Linked DNA regions of Homo sapiens. The protein of the gene in region 2 purifies or fractionates together with the protein of the main gene of each other region. This does not show direct contact. Each region holds a gene or a part of one and is shown on either strand. Other genes may lie near its edges. The genes, in order: PDS5B and CASP2.

What was found.
Region 1: the proteins of CASP2 (region 2) and PDS5B purify together in Homo sapiens (affinity purification with mass spectrometry, with the first as the bait; one large-scale study listed by BioGRID). This does not show direct contact.

What each region holds. Positions count from the first base shown.
Region 1 is NC_000013.11:32,771,249-32,775,068, reverse strand, and holds part of PDS5B (sister chromatid cohesion protein PDS5 homolog B), read right to left. Parts: intron 1,881-3,820; coding exon 1,745-1,880; intron 53-1,744; coding exon 17-52; 3' UTR 1-16. UniProt on the Homo sapiens protein: Regulator of sister chromatid cohesion in mitosis which may stabilize cohesin complex association with chromatin. May couple sister chromatid cohesion during mitosis to DNA replication.
Region 2 is NC_000007.14:143,291,351-143,295,170, reverse strand, and holds part of CASP2 (caspase-2 isoform 1 preproprotein), read right to left. Parts: intron 3,632-3,820; coding exon 3,481-3,631; intron 2,872-3,480; coding exon 2,704-2,871; intron 2,555-2,703; coding exon 2,473-2,554; intron 942-2,472; coding exon 847-941; intron 575-846; coding exon 398-574; intron 1-397. UniProt on the Homo sapiens protein: Is a regulator of the cascade of caspases responsible for apoptosis execution. Might function by either activating some proteins required for cell death or inactivating proteins necessary for cell survival.

The DNA.
Region 1 (3,820 bases), on a different chromosome or scaffold from region 2:
TATTAATTACATTTGTTCATCGCCGTTCCCTTTTAGCACTTCGCCGCCGTACCTTAAAAGGAAAGTCACCAGATGCTTAATTAAAATGGGTATATGTGCATAAGATATGCAGTAATCATTTTTAACTAATCTTTATTCTCATTTGTTCCTGATTTTCTTTGCTTTCCTTTCCCTGAAACTTTTTATCCTTACTTTCTGCCCTGGCATCACATATTTAGACCTCTATAACATTTGATCCCTTACAGGCTCACAGACTTCCCCAGAACAGTGAAAGAAAAAAATTATTTTACTTTTCTATCTAATAATTTTAAAGAGAAATGAACAGAAGTCAATGTCTACAGCAAGAAAAATAACTCAAACAGATTAATCATCTTTCTACTTATGTTTCCTGTGGTAAATGAAAACATTTCACATTTATGAACTTACATTATCTTTCTGGGAAAGCAGTTACTGAGTTTGGATCTTAACAATTATCAATACAGTAAAATAACCTAAAATTCAAACATATTATCATTTGCTGACAAGCACTAATGAAAGCATAAAACTTTAGTTCAAAAAATGTCAATATTAACAATAGGAATATAAAAGAGGGTTTTAATTTACATGTAGTTTTTCTCTGATGAAGACATCAATCGTTACTGACTCTTCAGACTTACTTTGATGTCCTCCCCAAAACCCTTTAAGAAACAAGCCAAACTAATTTGAGGTCACAATTATGCATATTTTCCTGTGTACTTAACTCGCTTATTCACAAATATGAATCCTGGTACAGATAGGAGTTCTGATTCCATTAAACAGGACAGAACAGCAGAGACCAATTCTGAGACTTGATTATAGAGCTTGGGTTTCTCAAACAAAGATAGGAGAAGAGCTTCTACTTAAATGTATTATGTTTTTTCCTAAGAGAAATATCTGAGTTGTATTAACTGGTAAAGTTATTTATTTATTACTTTAAAAGTCAAGAAGGGCCGGGTGCAGTGGCTGATGCCTGTAATCCCACCACTTTGGAGGCCAAAGCAGGCAGATCACTTGAGGTCAAGAGTTCGAGACCAGCCTGACCAACATGGTAAAACCCTGTCTGCACTAAAAATACAAAAACTAGTCGGGCACAGTGGCATTGGCCTGTAATCTCAGCTACTTGGGAAGCTGAGGCAGGAGAATTGCTTGAATCTGGGAGGCAGAGGTTGCACTGAGCCCAGATCGTGCGCCACTATACTCCAGCCTGGGTGACAGAGTGAGACTCTGTCTCAAAAACAAAAAAGTCAGGAAGTAACACATACCTACTTTTGCAAAATAAGTATGTATTACCAATTTTATGAATTCTCATTCAGCTCAAACTTCAATTCCAAAGGCTGATTTTATTCTGTGTAACTAACTTCTAATTTCTATTATGAAACCCAAATAGAAATACCAAACGGAGAGTTGTAAAATATAAACAACAGTATACTTAATGGGTATCAGTGCCCTAAAATCAAGGTACAACTTACATGCTTAAAGTGTCAATATTAGAATGCTGTACATTCAGTTCAGACTTGACATTTACATTCTCATTAAGCTACACCTATTTGCTTAGTTTCGGGTTTCCATAAAAGATGTTCTCCATTATCCAACCTGGTAGATAAAATGATGCTATGAACTAATGAAGTAAAACATATAAATACTAAACAAGTACTAAATGATCTAACCAAACATTTACTAACTCTTTTTATATCCCACACCACTCACAGAAACTTTGAACACATACATTTACTGTAGAAACTTCCTCCTCCTCTGTTTCTTCCTGTGGAATATCATCGACAGGAGAGCTACCCTGAAACACATCTACTTCTTCACTTGAATCATTTTCCTTAGTAGCTGCTTGTTTGGAGCGTCCTACACGGCTAGAGTAAAACACATGTAAAACACAATGAACGTTCCAATCTTTCAGTAGATTACCTCGTTAGAAGAAATGTTTCACGTATTTCATCGTCATATCATCTTTACCCTCAGTTACTTTATGAGACAAGAACATTTCTTTAATATTCTGAATCCTAAACCAGCATTTAATCATAGAATGTTACATATTATCTACCAAGTAACAACAAAAAAATGTGACTGAGAACATACCATAACCTAAAGTCTGCTCTTCCTTTCATCTTTCCTAACACAGTAAAAGGCATCTATGTCTACTGAGCTGCTCAAAGCAGAAAGGAATTCTGCTTTGAATATAGTGTACCTGTCTTTGTCTGGCCTTATAGATTCTTATGGAGATCTCAAATCCATTCACTTCTCTCCACATCTCCATTGCTACCACCTAATTCAAACCATTCCCATCTCTTGCCTCTTCTCTTTACAAAGTTATCTTTTAAAAGTACAAGAACAGATGATGTTACTGCTCCCTACTGAGCTGAGAATAATTTTGTAAACCTCCTTAACAAAGTATACAAGGAACAGTAGATGGTCCTTGCCTACCTGTCCACTCTCATCTCTTTCTGCTCCCCAACTCCCCACAACTACAATCCAACAAACCCTTGCCTTCCTTTAGCTTTCTGATTTTGCCAAGTTATTTTTCACTTCAGAAACTTCAAATATAGTGTTCATGCCACCTGTTCTCTGCCTGTCTAGCCCCTACTATTCTCAAGATATCAACTCATTGTTACTTTTAAAGAAAAAACTTCCTCACTCCATTAGATGGTGGAAAACAAGAACCACGAGCCCATGAAAACAAGTACCACGTCTGTTTTGTGTCCCTAGCACCTAGTACTCTCTGAAACACAGGAGGCATCAAAAAATATGTAATAGAACCATCTAATCAAATGGATCCCTCTTGATAAATCTTTATTTTTTAAAATTAGAAACATAACATCACTTCTATAAGCAATCCAAAATATGTATTTTTTTAACTCACGCTCGAACCAAACAATTTTTTTACTTGGTTTGGTTTTTCGAGATTAATGAAACTATAGAAATAACATGAAACATAATGACAATCTTTTTCAATTTCACTGAGGTCAGAACAAGAAAAAGAAACAAATCCTAACATATGTTAGTATACTAGCTCTAGAAAGAGCTTCCCAGTGAAAGGAAGATAGGCTTCCAAGACAGACTACAGAATCTTCTTCCATATCAATTTTTTTTTTTTTTTAAGAAATACTTGTTTGGTTTAGAACATTCATAGGACTTGTGTAATTTTAGGAGAGCACAATAATCATTTAAACCCTGAATTTTATGATGTCCAAATATAAACAAACTAAAATTATGAGGTTTGTTATTTCCTTGTTACATCATTCATGTGTATTTTATTAAATAAAGGATTCCTTAAGAATCCTTTGTTTAGAAATAGTGATTTGGTTGAATCCAAACACATTTATAAAGCTGCCACAAAAATGTACTTACCTTTACTTTTAACCTGATAGAAAAATTACATGGAAGATGGCATGAAGTACTGGCTAGACACCCAGGCAACTTTTCCTCTTCCTGTGGAATACACAGGAATAGGAAAATCTCTAAGATAATTGAGTATTTAATGACAGTACATTGGCAACTCTGAAAAGTCGAGCCATGATGTAATTATGTATGGGTGGGATTACTCTCAGAAAAAGTGTTAAATTTCTGACTAATAGAAGACATGCTACTCTATTTCCACTCACATAACTAAGGAGAAAAAACACTGTCAGATCTGCAAATTACAGCAGTGATACTCTGGTGACACTAAAATTTGAGGTACAGATTCTTACTGTACCTCTCTTATAAATGTGTTTGTGTGAACATCTAAAACTATATACATGTTGATGTAGATAAATGAACTGGGTTAGAAAACAAACAAAATCAAGATATCAAA
Region 2 (3,820 bases):
CTGCAGTTCCAGCTACTCAGGAAGCTGAGGCAGGAGAATCGCTTGAACCTGGTAGGCAGAGGTTGCAGTGAGCCGAGATCGTGCCATTGCACTCCAGCCTGGGTGACAGAGCTAAACTCTGTCTTTAAAAAAAAAAAAAAAAGTGAGACACCAACTGTGGACTATTATTACTTTATGAAACCACAACCTGAGATGTCAACACTAAAATGGCTGGCCGGCCCTAATTCTTTCTTACTAGAATGCAAGGTGAGAGGCAGAACAGAGTGAGTAAAAATGTAAGTAGAATAAACCAACTTTTAAGACATATCCCAGCAGGCACAGGAACAAACGATGTCTCTGGTCCCAAAGTGTTGTTCAGTCCTCTAATTTACATGTCAATTTTTCCCACCTCAGGTACCTGTGCAGTCTGGTCACATAGAACATGGACGTCATAGCCCAAAAGCTTGAAGAGGGTGACTAGAGTACTGTGGTCCACATCCCCTCCAGAGCGAAATTCCAGTTCTTTCTCTCCAGTGAAGTGCACATTGCTCAACACCAGTGCTAGGCCACGAGGCCGAGACTGCAACCTATATGCCTGTGGAGGAGAGGCCAGTTAGACCATGAGCGTCTTGATAACAGATGATTCCTCGGCTAGATTAGACATTTCAAGAAAACAAAGACATCGTATTTTTCTTCTTAACCTCCAGCAGGTAAAAATAGACAAATGCTCACAGAAGGCATTTAACCAGTAACAACTTTCTGACTAATAAGGCAGAAAGGAAATGTACATGCAAACTAAGTTCAGGTTCCCAGGAAGGGTGTCTAATTTCCCAACTCTCTTCCTCTTGTCATTATGCAAAAACTCACCAGCTGGAAGTGTGTTTGATAAAATTCAGGAGTGCAAGGCTTCACCTGAAGGCAGACAGGACCATCTTTATTGTCTAGGGAGTGTTCCACAGTATCTGTGGTATAGACAGAAAACCAAAAAACTAGTATATAACTTAACCATCAATCTTAATATGTCATTGTAACTTCAGACATCTCTTGCAACTGGGTTGTGATAAATATTGGTCTCACTCACTACCCAAACCTGTAAGCTTCATGAGGGCAGAGACTCTTAGTTTTAGCTCACTAAAGGATTCTCTGCACATAGCCTGCATGAAGCATATGCTCAACTGGCTGAATGACCGAATGGGCTAGCTGATAAAAGCCTCGTTCCAATCACTAGGATGCTCCATCAGCAGGCTGGTGGCCCCAAATGTAGTCTTTTCTTATTCAGCTTTTTAGAGGCCAATTGAGCATGAACTTCCTGCCCATACATGCTACTCAAAGGCCCAATTATCACAAAAACTGTTATCTGGGGTGGAAGGGAAATGGACCAACTATTAATAACACCTTGCCTGGGCCGGGCGCAGTGACTCATGCCTGTAATCCCAACACTTTGGGAGGCCGAGGCAGGCAGATCACGAGGTCAGGAGATGGTGAAACCCCATCTCTTACTAAAAACACAAAAAATTAGCTGGGTATGGTGGCACGCACCTGTAATCCTAGCTACTCAGGAGGCTGAGGCAGGAGAATCACTTGAACCCAGGAGGCAGAGTTTGCAGTGAGCCGAGACTGCACCATTGCACTACAGCCTGGACGACAGAGCAAGACTCCATCACAAGAAAAAAAAAAAACAAAAAACCACAAACTCCTGCATAAACTGTCCTACTAGCCCTTAACAAATTTACTGACAACTGTTCCCAATATAAACTATGTCTCAGCTGGGCATGGTGGCTTACGCCTATAATCCCAGCACTTTGGGAGGCCAAGGCGGAAGGATCATTTGAGGCCAGAAGTTTGACACCAGCCTGGGTAACAAAGTGAGACTCCTTCTCTACAAAAAATTTAAAAATGAGCTAGGTGTGGTGGCATGCACCTGTAATCCCAGGTACTTGGGAGGCTGAGGCAGGAGGAGCCCTTCAACCCAGGAGTTCAACGCTGCAGTGAGCTATGGTGGTGTCACTGCATTCCAGCCTGGGTGACAGAACAAGACCCTATTTCTGAAAAAAAACACAACAAAAAAAAAAAAAAACAAAAAAAAGGGCTCATGTTAGGACAAAGCCAGATACCAGACAAGAAAGGGGAAGTCAATCTGGGACACCCCCCTCCTTTTTATTTTATTTTATTTTATTTTTTGAGACTGAGTCTCACTCTGTTGGCAAGGCTGGAGTGCGGTGGCACCGTGTTGGCTCACTGCAACCTCCGTCTCCTGGGTTCTAGCAATTCTCCTGCCCCAGCTTCCCGAGTAGCTGGGATTACAGGCACCCACCACCATGCCCAGCTAGTTTTTATATTTTTAGTAGAGACGGGGTTTCACCATGTTGGCCAGGCTGGTCTCGAACTCCTGACCTCAGGTGATCCACCCGCCTTGGCCCCGCAAAGTGCTGGGATTATAGGCGTAAGCCGTGGCACCTGGCCTGGGACCCCTTTTAGTCCATCAATTCTCACCTGTCGACAGGCGGAGCTTCTTGTAAAGGGGACAGGACTCACACACCGGAAAAGGGAGACTCAAGTCGTAGTCACAGCTCAACTGTAAGAAATCAAAACTCATGATGACAGACCTTAGGGAAGTGGTCCGGTCCAAATACAACAAAATCTAGTCTCCCTCACTCTGACTTACAAATTCCTTTCCAGTCAAACTAACCCTTCCCAACACCCCATATTACTAAAGCTTCATACCGGTGGGAGTACATGCTGAAGCCCAGAAAGGGTGGTGAGCAACATATCCTCCAGGTGGCCTTGCTTGGTCTCCCTCAGTGCTTCACAGAAGGCATCAAAAGCTTGGGGACCCCTCTTAGGCAGCAAGTTGAGGAGTTCCACATTCTGGCTGAAACTGCCCACTTTGGCCTAAGACACAAGAATAAAACATGAAATCATATTTACTTCTCTAGCTATAATTCTATTTCTCCACATGAGCTTCCTAGTAGTGTCCTCATCCAAGAATTCTTTTTACAGGAAAAGTGTATGTATGGGTGAAGTCCTTTCTGTTATTCTTGAGTTATATATCATTTCTCTCAAATGCTCTACGGTAGAAGGGCATTTCCATTTCTTTAGAAAGGTACAACATCCAGCTGGGTGTGGTGGCTCACACCTGTAATCCCAGCACTTTGGGAGGCCGAGGCAGGTGGATCATGAGGTCAGGAGATCGACACCCTCCTGGCTAACACAGTGAAACCCTGTCTCTACTAAAAATCCAAAAAATTAGCCAGGCATGGTGGCACCTGCCTGTAGTCCCAGCTACTTGGGAGGCTGAGGCAGGAGAATCACTTGAACCTGGGAGGCAGAGGCTGCAGTGAGCCAAGATCGCGCCATTGTACTCCAGCCTGGGAGACAGAGACTCTGTCTCAAAAAAAAAAAAAAAAAAAAGGAAGAAAGATACGACACCCTTTCCATATTTTGTCATGCTCTATTCCCACCCCATGATCAATTTATCTTCTCTCTTTTGCCTCCAGATACCTGGATGAGCTCCCTCATTTCCAAGGTGATGATGTCCTTCTCCAGAAGATGTTCTAACAATTCGCTCAACAACAGCTGTTTGGCTAGCACCACTCGGTTCTTTTTTAGAGTTTCCTGATGATGAGGATGCATGCCACACACTCCCAATATCCTACAGATAAACGGTAGAAGGAAAGGCTGTCAAGTCACAATTTGACACAGAAGAGTGGAGTGGAAGAGGCATGAATAGGAAGAACAAAAAGAATAAGACTTACAATAACCAAGATTATGCATATTTCTTAAATCTGGTTAAAGCAAAGATGTACTAAGCAGGAACACATTGATCATAAGAAAATAATGT